Linked DNA regions of Homo sapiens: regions 2, 3 and 4 are each reported to be linked to region 1. Evidence: microRNA targets listed by miRTarBase, many of them from high-throughput screens and not tested one by one. Region 1 holds a microRNA gene; each other region holds the end of a gene's coding sequence.
The links. Region 1 holds the annotated microRNA hsa-miR-516b-5p (AUCUGGAGGUAAGAAGCACUUU, at 1,202-1,223, opposite strand). A microRNA usually pairs through its seed, bases 2 to 8, with sites in the 3' UTR of a target mRNA and lowers its output. Matches are read on the target gene's strand: a 7mer-m8 pairs with bases 2 to 8, a 7mer-A1 pairs with bases 2 to 7 and ends in A, and an 8mer does both.

Region 1 (3,207 bases):
CCCTGGTGTTCCCAGTCCAGAGGCCTTCACTCCTTCCAGTACCCCAGGAGGGTCACCTTGCAGTTCTCAGGGAGGAAGATGTGGTCTTCCACCCTTGTGAGCTTCCCAGGCATCAGGGTCTGCCCGCCCGACTCCATTCCCAAAGGATGTTCCGCCCAGTTCTCCCAGCCTCCTGCTTCCATCCAGGGACCACCCTTCAGTGGTAAGATTCACACTGCAGACAACCAGGACCAACCCATTATCCTCAATTACAGTGGTCACAACAGGCCACCTATTCAAAACTGATCTATGTGACATGCCCACAAGAGGCAGATCCAGAGCTAGAGAGATGCAAAGTGTTTGTCACGGTCTGGGTGGAAGAGTGGGGTGGGAACTGACTGCAAATGGGAATAAGCCTCTTTGGGGTGATGAAAATCTCCTGAACTAGAATGTTGGTGGTTGAAAATATGCTAAAATCATTCACACTTCAGAGTAAATTTCAAAAGGTTACTTCCTCAGTTCGCAAAAGTCAGAGACAGGGCCGGGTGCGGTGGCTGATGCCTGTAATCCCAGCACTCTGGGAGGCCGAGGTGCATGGGTCACCTGAGGTCAGGAGTTCCAGACCAGCCTGGCCAACATGGGAAAACCCCGGGTCTAAAAATACACACATAAAAAATTGGCCAAGTGTGGTGGCACGCACCTGAAATCCCAGTTACTCCAGTGGCAGAAGTTGCAGTGAGCTGAGATTGTGCAGCTGCACTCCAGCCTGGGCGACAGCGAGACTCCTTCTCAAAAACACATAAATAAATGAATAATAAAGAAAACTACAAATATTAGCCAGGTGTGGAGGAGTGAGCCTGTAATCCTAGCGACTCGGAAAACTGAGGCAGGAGAATCGCTTGAACCCGGGAGGTGGAGGTTGCAGTGAGGGGAGTTCCTGCCATTGCACTCCAGCCTGGGTCAGAGTGAGACTCCGCCCCCCAAAAAGAGGACCATTTAAGACCAAGAGATCTAGGTTGGAAGTGCCAACACACTCCAGCCTGGGCAACAGAGACCCTGCCTAAGATAAAAAATAAAACAAAAACAAAACCCAACCGTCATCCACGTCTGATGATAAGCATGCTCTCCAAATGTATTACCAAGATCAGCATCAACTTCAACGTTGCTTTTCTCAAAGAGTAACCCTCTGAAAGGAAGCACTTTCTTTTCTTTCACAAAACAGAAAGTGCTTCTTACCTCCAGATGGTCACAGCCTGAGATATTCTTGCTCGGTGCATGGTGGATTTTTTGTTGGAATGTTCTTCGACCAGGTTAAAATGGACACAAACATAAAGATGCATTTGTGGGCCCTGTTTGCATGTTTCCTGGAATCCAGAACATAAACCCCTAAAGGAACCATCTCCAGTTTCTTGTTTCAAAGAATCAGCAGGTTACCTTGTTCATCAAGGGGCAATCCTCCTGAGTTTTGTCTCTAGAAAGAAAAAGCAATGCCTACTACACATACCTTATATTTAACCAAGAGAATTGGGCTGGATTTCTAGAGAACAGCAATGGATTTTGAGCCAAGTGTTCACTTGAGTTCCAGTATAGGCACACAGTCCCAGTGGGAGCATCCAAAATGGAATCTACGATGTTGAAGAATATACATTGTCATACGCACAAATATTCTCCAGAATAGATCACAGGCTTGGTCATAAAAACTCCTTAACACAATTTTAACATAAATACACAAGTACAGGTGGGGCACGGTGGCTCACACCTCTAATTCTAGCACTTTAGGAGGCCAAGACGGGAGAATCACCTGAGGTCAGGAGTTCGAGACCAGCCCCGGCAACATGGTGTAACCCCATGTGTACAAAAAATACAAAAGTGAGCCGGGTGTGGTGGTGCATGCCTGTAGACACTAATGCAGCAGGCTTAGGTGGAAGGCGGAGGTTGCAGTGAGCTGAGAACGCACCACTACACTCCAGCCTGGGTGATAGAGCCAGACCTTGTCTCAAAAATAACCAACCAAACAAATAAAACACACACACACAGAAACAAACCAAAAAATACCCAAAGTGATATCAGAGTATTCTCTGTATTCAAATCAGCATTTTGTGTGTATATGATTATGTTATATATATGATATATTATATATATGATAAATTTAACTGGGGGCTGGGTACGAACAAAATAACAGTCCTTACTTTCTTCTTGTCTGTGCATGGGTTAATATTCACATGTAGTCCCATCTACCTAGGACTGGGGAGGGGCAGAGGCAGGAGGATCTAAGACCACTTTAGCCAGGGCGGCACAGTGAGACCCCTGTCTCATGCATTTATTTCCTGGTCATGCACCCAAGATTTCAGCTTCATTTCCCCAATAAACACTGAAGCCCCATGCACTCCACCTCCGTGCTCTTGCTCATCCCATCTGCAGGGACACTGAGGTCCCCTCAACTCCACCTGACCCCATGTGAGGTTCTATACCAGTGCCAGAATAATTTCCATGCAGTAAAAGGTGTTGATGGCTGCGCAGTGGCTCATGCTTGTATTCTCTGGACAACATGGTGAAACCCCCTCTTTAGTGAAAAAAAAAAAAAATAATAATAATAATAATAATACAAAAAGTAGCCGGGCCTGGTGGTGTGTTCCTGTAATTCCAGCTACTCCAGAGGCTGAGGCAGGAGAATTGCTTGAACCTGAGAGGTACAGGTTGTAGTCAGCCGGGATCGTGCCACTGCCCTCTAGCCTGGTCGACAGCGAGACTCCATCTGAAAAGTAAATAAATACATGAATAAAAAAGAAAAATACAAATGTTAGCCAAGGATGATGTCAGGCGCCTGTAATCCCAGCTCCTCAGGAAGCTCAGGAAGGAGAATTGCTTGAGCCCAGGAGACAGAGGTTGCAGTGAGCCGAGATCACGCCACTGCACTCCAGCCTGGGTCACAGAGCAAGACTCTGTCCCAAAAAAGAGGACTATCTGAGCGCAAGAGACCTAGGTTGGAAGTGCTTATGGACTCCAGCCTGGAAAATACAGATTTTGTCTTAGGAGAAAAAAAAAAAAAAAAGCACAGAACCCCGATATCATCCAAGTCTGATGATAAGCATCCTCTACAAATGTATTACTGAAGTCAGCATCAACTTCAACATTGAGTTTCTCAAACCGTAACGCTCCAAAGGGAAGCGCTTTGGTTTCTTTCAGACAACAGAAAGTGCTTCCCTCTAGAGGGTCACAGCATGGGAT
Region 2 (3,207 bases), not on the chromosome of region 1:
CATGCCCAACCAATTTCACATTTTTAAAAATGCATTTCTAACAGTACCAAGTGAATGCTGCATTCAAGGATTTCCCCAAATTTATGTGAGTACTTTTATAATCTGCCGTTTTGGGTTTCTGTAAACCAACAAAAACTCAGAAAGGGAGCACCTTTCAAAATATTGAAAGCTGCAACCAATAGTTTTATATATCTGTTGATGTCTGCCGTGTTAGTCTGTAAACAGGTGTATTTTTATATGCATGGTGTATTTTTGTGAAATAGAAGAAACTCGCTTGGTTTCACAGGTTTCCTTCACCAAATTGTTCTAGAGAGTGTTTCTTGTATAAATGAAATTTAGATGGTCAGTTATTCCATCAGTGTTCTACTCCTGACCTCCCCCATCTCTAGTCACATGTCATATCTTTTATTGCCATTTTTGTCTCACAGGGGAAGTCCACAGTATGTTCTGCAAAGCCAGTTTAGATGAAAAGCAAAATCTGGTTGATCGCCGCTTACAAGTTAATAGGAAAAAACAAGTGAAAATGCACCGAGTGTGGATTCAAGGCAAATTCCAGAAACCATTGCACCAGACTCAGAATAGCTCCAATATGGTATCTACACTCCTTTCACAAGACTGAACTTTGTAACATGTTAAGGTACAAAGCCAGAGGACTGTGCTATTCAAGGACTACTGTAAGTCTATTGTTTCTCAAAAGACAATGAGAAAAAAAGAAGAGAATTTGTATTTCCTGCCGTTTTGTCATAGGTGAGCTCCTTTGTGCATTTTAAGCACATGTAAGTGGTTCAGCACAGTATGCCTTTTTCTGTGCTTTGAAAACTTGATATGCTCAAGCTTGTTTGAATTTATTACATCTAACCATTTTGCTTGTTCCTTGATTTTTATAAGCATTCAATTAAGTTAGTATTATGTCAAGTAATTTTGAGAAAATGTAACTTGACATTTTTTGCAAGTAAAAAAAATTGTTTATTTGTTTAGGCTTAGTAAACCAGTTCCCAAACACAGTCAGACTCTTCCCATTGTCATCTGATTGCAGAGAGAAAGCACACCTTATTTCCAGGGAAAGCTACAACAAGCCCAAGGTCAAAGTGTATTATTTTTTGTCTTGTTGTTGTCTATTTTCTCCCAATTTTTTTTTGAAATTCAGAGGCTCATATCTGAAATAGAATTTTAGTTCCTCTTTCCTTTCCTAAAATTGGGGAAGTACAGCCCATGCTGACATTATTTTCAGGCTATTCTTAGATATACAAGTTGTTAGGCCAGGTGCAATGGCTCGCACCTGTAATCCCAGCACTTTGGGGGGCTGAGGCAGGCAGATCGGTTGAGCTCAGGAGTTCAAGACCAGCCTGGACAACATGGCAAAACCCTGTCTCTCCCAAGAATACAAAAATTAGCCAGGCATGGTGGCACACACCTGTGGTCCCAGCTACTCAGGAGACTGAGGTGGGAGGATCGCTTGAGCCTCGGAGGCGGAGGTTGCAGTGAGCTGAGATTGTACCACTGCGCTCCAAACTGGGTGACATGGTGAGACCTTGTCTCCAAAAAAAAAAAAAAAAAAAAAAAAGGTATGTAAGCTGACAAGCTCTTGTATCAAGGGCTTTTGAACCAGAGCAACTTCATCTTGAATAGGGACTGTGTAAAATGAAGCTGAGACCTACTAGGCTGCAATCCCAGGAGGTTAAGACATTCTTAGTCACAGGATGAGATAGGAAGTCAGTACAAGATACAGGTCATACAGACCTTGCTGATAAAACAGGTTGCAGTGAAGAAGCCGGCCAAATGCCACCAAAACCAAGATGGCAATGAGAGTGTCCTCTGGCTGTCCTCACTGCTACACTCCCACCAGTGCCATGATAGTTTACAAATGCCATGGCAACATCAGGAAGTTACCCATATGGTCTACAAAGGGGAGGCCTGAATAATCCACCCCTTGTGTAGCATATAATCAAGAAATAACCTTAAAAATGGGCAACCAGTAGCCCTTGGGGCTGCTCTGCCTATGGAGTAGCCATTCTTTATGTTTTACTTTTTTTTTTTTTTTTTTTTTGAGATGGAGTCTTGCTCTGGCACCCAGGCTGGAGTGCAGTGGCGTGATCTCAGCTCACTGCCAGCTCCACCTCCCGGGTTCACGCCATTCTCTTGCTTCAGCCTCCTGAGTAGCTGGGACTACAAGCACCCACCACCATGCCCAGCTAATTTTTTTTTTTTTTGTATTTTTAGTAGAGACGGGGTTTCACCATGTTAGCCAGGATGGTCTCAATCTCCTGACCTTGTGATCCGCCCGCCTCGGCCTCCCAAAGTGCTGGGATTACAGGTGTGAGCCACCGCGCCCAGCCTATTCTTTACTTAAACTTGTTTTCACTTTGCTGTATGGACTCAATTCTTTCTTGCACAAGATCCAAGAATCCTCTCTTGGCGTCTGGATCCAGACCCTTTCTGGTATCAGTGGTAAGCTCTGTTTAAGACAACTGTCATACCCAAGAGAATTCTTAAATTGTGGCAGTTAAAAATGTATTTATCCCCTCGAGGGCCGGGCGCAGTCGCTCAAGCCCGTAATCCCAGCACTTTGGGAGGCCGAGGAGGCGGATCATGAGGTCAGGAGTTCAAGACCAGCCTGACCAACACTGTGAAACCCTGTCTCTACTAAAAATACAAAAAAAATTAGCCAGGCGTGGTGGTGGGCACCTGTAATCCCAGCTACTCGGGAGGCTGAGGCAGGAGAATCACTTGAACCCGGGAGGCAGAGGTTGCAGTGAGCCGAGATGACACCACTGCCCTCCAGCCTGGGTGACAGTTGTTAGACTGCGTATCAAAAAAAAAAAAAAAAATTTATTTACTCCCTTGCTTCAAAAAGGACATAAGTTGGCTTGCAAATCACATTTTGTAGAAATGAAGTTTTTAAGATTAGTCTCATACTCATTACATAATATTTATTGACTACTTACATATTGAGTGCTAAATTCAGTGGAATAATATGAACAATAAAGACCCAGCCTTGTTTATGCTCTTCAGGGAGCATAAATAGAGTACAGCTGGCAAAACAAAATGTGCATATCCCAAACCTGTAAATCATGATCTAAGACAATATACAAACACTCAAATAGGGAACTTACCAGCTAGCAGACTTTGATTATGAACCACAGAACCTAGAATAAATAAATACTCTCTTGAAAGAACCATCATTGGAATAATTAAGTTCCAACTGTT
Region 3 (3,000 bases), not on the chromosome of region 1:
GGAGTCTTAGACCACCCTGGGCAACATAGAGAGACCCTGTCTCTACAAAATAAATAAGTAAATAAAACACCTGAAACACTAAAGATTTACCCTTAGCTCTCTTCCATAACACCAACCTTTTCAAAAATATGCTACATCACAATTTTTAAGAATGTCTTGAGCTCAGAACATGTCTATTCTATACTATCAAGCTGATCTTTTAAGTAGCACATAGTAGAATTAAAGCCTAAGTAGATTTTGTTATTCTAACTGTTTTATCAACATTTTCAGCAATGTCTTCAATGATCAGAAATCAAGAAAAGAGGATACAGAAAGTAAAAGACCAGGAAAAAATGTTACTAAAATGACTCGTTGCTTGCCTATTCTTTACAGAGGAATGAGGCCCAATTAATTGTGGTGTTACTCGTAATTAGTGCCCTGTGTACTTTTTCTTTTTATGTGAAAATTTAATAAAAGATACCCTGTCTTGTAAACTCTATTTTGAAATAAACTATTCTTGAATCCCTCACAGTAAAACTTCAAACATCTACTAGCTAGTATTCATACATTATAACAATTAATACCTATAAAGTATTCATACATAATAAGGTATTATAATTACCTTATAAGGTGATTAATTATAAGATATAATTTGTGCTTATTCTAATATATTGGAATAATTGTGGTTTTTTATTGTTACTGGTCCCAAGACAATAGAATCTATTTTATTTATTTTATTCTACTTAAATTTTAATTTAATTTAAATGTTTTATTCAATCTAATTTAGCTTCAAAAAAAATCTGGGGGAAGAACTACTTTCACATGAAAGTGAAAGACGTGGTGTAATACCAAGGACAGAGGACAAATTTCAGCATACTAACAGGGGCTCATTTTGTGACTGTGAACTCACTGTTCTGTCAATATCAGTGAGGGTAATCAGATAACCTAACATCAGGGCCCCCAGTCAAAACTTTTACAAAAGTTTCCCTTTTTTGCATATTAATAATAGTAAAGAAAATGATTTTGTTACTCTTTAGCAAGTTGGTAACTTCTAGATTATATCTATTCAGTCTGCTTTAATTAAATTTTAATAAATTAGGGAGGTTTATATGTGAACTAAATAAAATGAGAGAAGAACAAATACAAAAATGTATCAGTTGTGTCAAAACATCAGGGACAACGTGGCAGATGGCTAGCTGTCCAAAATAAATCTTATGTTCCTGTTGTATAACCTGGAATTGTCACTGAGAAACAGCTGCCCAGCAAGAGTCTCTATTTCCCAATCCTGCCTCCCCTTGTATATGGGTGTGGCCTGAGGGTTCTCATTAACAGAATGTGGACAGAGCAATATGTGGCACTTTCAGGTCAAAGTGTTAACATGCATGGGTGTTCTTCCTAACTTTATTTTCCCCTCCATGGGCTGGATGCAGAGGACATGAGGGTTATTATAGGGGATGGCAGAGCCACAGGGCAGAAGGGAGTCTGGGTAACTGAATCTCTGCAAGGAGGGGAGCTGCCCTCCTGCCAGGAAGACTCACTGCTGACAGTTACATGAGCAAGAAATCGGCCTCTGGTGCTGCAGCCTTCTTAAATGGATGGTGTCTATTACAGCAGCTAGCAGCAGCCCTAACCTATGCAGACAACAAATGGAGTAGGGCATGCATGCTCTCACCAGAAGATCCTCACGCTTCTGCTCTCAAGGACAATGTTAGAACTGTAAGCACATCCAATTTTAAGTGAATTTTTAAAATATAAAGTGTAATATTTCTCTCTTAGATCAGTTGGCTTTACTGAAAGATTAATTTTAATTTTACCAGGTAGTGATAAAATAGCCAGTAATAGAATTCTAGAGAGACTTTTACTTAAATTGTTTTACCTTTAATTTTCCTCATGGGCATGTTTGGGCATTCCATGCAGTAATGGTGAATGCCTTCTGCAGAGCTTACTGGTACAATATAAAATTCATTATGAAGTCTGTAAACAGTATACATGAATTTAACATAAAAGTGCTATGAGCCAAAAACTGTCAAACATAGTTCTTTTAAGTACTTTCTAATGCTATTTTCAGTTGGGTTTATTCTTTTCAGCAAAGACCATCTGTTTAAAAGGATTAAACATTATTTCACTGATAGATGTTAAACTTATTAAAAGTTATTTTAACATGTAAGAATTCATTTTCAAGTACAGGCGTGCTGAATTTCCCTCCAGTCAAAGGTGAACTTTGAGAATAAATATTGTCAACTTTTTCTCCAAAGGGAGGAGAAAAACAGAATCTTCATGTCTTCTGTACCTTTTGATGTTTGCTTTTCTGTATATGTCTCTTATTAGTGGAGGAAAATATTTGTATTTTATTTTACATCTAGGCTATTGTGATACTAAAATTTAGACAAATAATTCAGACATCAAATGAAGATATTAAAATTCAGGTTTTATTATTTGTTCAGTTATAATAATTTAAGTTAATATTTGCTGTATTCTCAGAGCAAAGATGTATTTCTGTACCACTGTCCTGTATAAATTTGTTACCCAAGATAGTGACTGGTATGAAAGGAGAGGGAAGAGGGTGACAGATGGAAACGATTGCTGTAGGACAGTCCATCTGGCCAGATGCGGTGGGGGAGGGGAGAAGAAGTGGGAGAGAGATGGTCCTACAGATGCTCCCATGGGTAAATGATGGGTGCATCCCTCCCTGCAGTCGGGCTGTGCCTGTACTTCACAGTCCTCTAAGAGGTGTCATTCAGGCCACCTCACTCAGCCTATGCCCAACCCCACTCACTTTCCCTTTCCTTATGGGCTGCCCCCGCAACTGACTTCCATGATGATTGGTTCTCATTAGGCCCTTTGTTTCTACACCAGCCTTAGATCATTAAGACAAAGACGTACTTGCTACCCTCATAGCACATAACAACGCCTGGCAGATGAAAATCAAACAAAAAGCATTAGGCAGTCTTAGAACATTATCTTGTATCCTTACTAATCACATCCAGACCAGATATTTTCTAATCACAGTTTCGTATCATG
Region 4 (3,000 bases), not on the chromosome of region 1:
GAGAGTCAAGGGGAGTGATGACTATTTCAGAGACAGGAAAGGACAGAAGAGATGACCAAAGGCACCCCCAAGGGATCAAGGCACAGAGGAAGAGGGACTTCATCCACACAGGAGCCTGGCTCCTGCAGGCCATGGCATGGCTCTCGGGGCTGCCAGCAGGGCTCCCCATAGCATAGGTGTGCTCTGCGGTGGGCCCTTGGGCAGGGTCCTGAGGACAGTGCCAGGGCCAGGCTCCAGTGCAGCACAATGTTGGGCAAAGGACTCCTAACACAGCCACGCTGGGGCTACTCAACCCGACAGTGGGGAGGGAAGGTGTGGGTGCTCACAAGGCAGGCATCCATAGAAGACGCTGCCCAGGTCCAAGTCAAAGAACTACACGTTCTCATCCGAGCCCTCGGCACTGAAGACCTCCACCATGGGCTGACCTCTCTCCTGACTGCCAGATACAGCAAAGCCTGGCTTACCCAGAAAACAGCTGGGGTCTTCTGCTTAACTCAGTTCCATCAAACTACCCAAGGGGTAACAGATTCTGGATGAATTTTTTAAAGGGTCTCAAGTTAAATGTTTCATTCATGATTCACAAAAGGCACTTCAAAATTCCACAGAGCCACAGGGTCACTGTTAGTAGGTCACCAATCCTCCTGTACAGGACCGATGGAGAAGCTCTAAGACAATGGGCTATGTGTTTCACCTGATGGGGTCCCTGGCCATTTGTAAATAAATCTCGGATATTAGCTAGTTTGTCATTTATCTTGCAGTCAAGCATACACAAAACAGAAAGACACACAGTATGTTTGCACTTTGAATAAATGAGATTTTGCTGTATCATGGCAGTTTATAAAGTATTCTCAAGTCTGTTATTTGACCTAAGATCCAACATTATAATCGTACATTTAAGAGGTTACAATGTGAGAGGTACTCATTGAGCAGAATTTTCTAATAATCTAATCACCTTGCCGATTTGCACCCAGTGTCCATTTAGAAACATGAAATTAAGCTACTGGCACTCAATTGCCACATTGCTAGCATTTAATAAGGACTCCACTAGATGGAGGAACAAGGGCTCTCAAACCAAATAACCAACGACCACAAGCATTTCCTGTCAGACAAGCCAAGGTCCTGCTGGAGCTGCCTCTGAAGGCAGCCGGCTGATGGACAGGCCTGGTCTTCCCTCTGTGTGCCCCACTGCCAGGTGGCACCTTACCCTGCGCAGGCGCTCAGCCTGCGCGGTGGTACAGATGCTTCACTCACACTTGCCGGGGGCTAAAATCACAGCCTATGACCAACCTGGCCTGGGGTGTTCTGAGGTAGTTCCTGAACTCGGGATGCCTGTTACCTACTCTCTTTCAGAAGTCAGGACATGTAGGAAGTATTAAAATATCCATGCATCGCTTTCATCAATAATCACTGTAATTGAGTGCAAAATAAAGGAAACTTGAGTTGCTTTATTTAGCTTCCAATTTCTGGGAGGCTCAAGAATTATAAGTATTCTGGACAACAAAAGAAAATAAGACTGTGCTTACAGATCTTGTTCTGCCATATTCTTGCTTTAGGATTGCTATTTTATTGTTGCCCTTTCTGTTACATGGGATGTACACATCAGGTGTTAAAAGGTACAATACATTCTACAACTGAGCACCACTTTCTGTAACTGAACAGGCAAAGAAATTACACTGAACATCAGCATCTGGCAGTATTTTTTTGGAAAAAAAAAGTGACTAAAATGGGTTTAAATTGATTAACACTATTAAATCACATCTAATATTTGATACTACATGATTCAATACAGCTATACGATACAATTATACAAAATGTGTTAACATCAAAGAATACAACCAAAATTAAGATAGCAAACAAAACCTATATAACTTTTTTTTTTTTACAGGAAAATACTTTTGAAGTATGCATGTAACTGCCCATTCTTTTAAAGAAAATCTACTGCAAGCAAAGTTATCAACCTCCAGAAAAATCACACGTAGCATTACTAAGCATATCCCCAAAAAAGTGTACAATATGCACACTTGGAAAATACAAAATTAAAAAAATTGTAAGCAACAGGTGAGCTTCATATTTATAAGAATGTGAAAAGAAGTCCCATTTTTAGCACTGTTGTATAAAGAATTGTCTTTTGATGCGAAGTTCATGAATTGTCCTCCTGTTGGGACCACACTTTACAAAAACACTGTGTTTTTGAAACGAGATTACAGAGCAAGATAGAGCATCTTAGCAATGTCATCTTAGTAAAGTTTTTTTTTTTTAATTTTTACTACTTTATCAAAACATGTCCCTTAGGTGTGTAGGATTCATTTTTAAAATTCTTCCTAGAAATAATATACAAAGGAGAGGCATATTTATTCCCAATCACACTTCTGGAAGATGCTTCCCGTGGTCGAGAAGGGTCTTCTCTCTTCTTTTCACTGGTTGTTTTTGGCCTTAGCATGTGTTAAGATGTGAGATTTCAGGTTAGTTGACTGAGCAAACTTCTTATTACAACCATCGAAGGGGCACACATAGGGCCTGTCTCCGGTATGGATTCGCACATGTGTGCGCAAATTGAAGTCCAGTGAAAAGCGTTTCCCACAGCCTTCGAACGTGCACTGTCAAGGAAAGACCAGAGATCAACCCACTCAGCAACTCTGACCAGACCCTGGGAGTCAGGAGCTCACTGCTTTGCTAGAGAACAGCCTATTTATTTTACCAAACACTTTTCATTCCTGCCCTGGGTGAACTTTGTGGATATAGTCTAGAATCAGCAGGCAGGTTGGACAACCCCGAAAACCCAAGGAGAGCCCTCACGAACTGTTTAAAACACTTGGCAAAATGGCAAGTCTTCCTAAATGCAGGCTAGAGTCCTAGTGCTGCTGTAAACATTTCCAACAGTAAAATACAAATGATTAAGGGTTCTGGTGTCAGTTGTCAAAAAAGAACCACGTTAGATTTACTAGCTGCACTGCTAGTTCTTTCACTTATTTATGGGCTAAAGTATTACCTATACTTACA

Region 2: miRTarBase lists METTL8 as a target of hsa-miR-516b-5p. The part of its 3' UTR that is shown has no 7-base or 8-base seed match.
Region 3: the mRNA of CCDC158 is a reported target of hsa-miR-516b-5p. The part of its 3' UTR that is shown has no 7-base or 8-base seed match.
Region 4: the mRNA of YY1 is a reported target of hsa-miR-516b-5p. Seed matches in the 3' UTR shown: 7mer-A1 at 2,368-2,374, 7mer-A1 at 1,489-1,495 and 7mer-A1 at 528-534.

What each region holds. Positions count from the first base shown.
Region 1 is chr19:53,734,876-53,738,082 of GRCh38, reverse strand. It overlaps MIR516B1 (microRNA 516b-1), which reads right to left and starts at 1,238; the gene lies at 1,149-1,238. It overlaps MIR518D (microRNA 518d), which reads right to left and starts at 3,206; the gene lies at 3,120-3,206.
Region 2 is chr2:171,321,584-171,324,790 of GRCh38, reverse strand. It overlaps METTL8 (methyltransferase 8, tRNA N3-cytidine), which reads left to right. Exons shown (of 10, transcript NM_001321154.2): 10 at 429-3,207. The coding sequence ends at 619. Among named protein-coding and RNA genes, the nearest start is that of METTL8, 110 kb to the left of the region's middle. RefSeq lists an enhancer at 337-436 and a silencer at 518-812.
Region 3 is chr4:76,310,517-76,313,516 of GRCh38, reverse strand. It overlaps CCDC158 (coiled-coil domain containing 158), which reads left to right. Exons shown (of 25, transcript NM_001394954.1): 25 at 271-478. The coding sequence ends at 347. FAM47E-STBD1 (FAM47E-STBD1 readthrough) reads right to left here. Exons shown (of 7, transcript NM_001242939.2): 7 at 2,387-3,000. It overlaps STBD1 (starch binding domain 1), which reads right to left. Exons shown (of 2, transcript NM_003943.5): 2 at 2,387-3,000. Among named protein-coding and RNA genes, the nearest start is that of STBD1, 5.3 kb to the right of the region's middle.
Region 4 is chr14:100,277,015-100,280,014 of GRCh38, reverse strand. It overlaps YY1 (YY1 transcription factor), which reads right to left. Exons shown (of 5, transcript NM_003403.5): 5 at 1-2,597. The coding sequence ends at 2,415. It overlaps MIR6764 (microRNA 6764), which reads right to left and starts at 2,658; the gene lies at 2,598-2,658. It also overlaps a transcript of SLC25A29 not described here. RefSeq lists an enhancer at 702-1,682.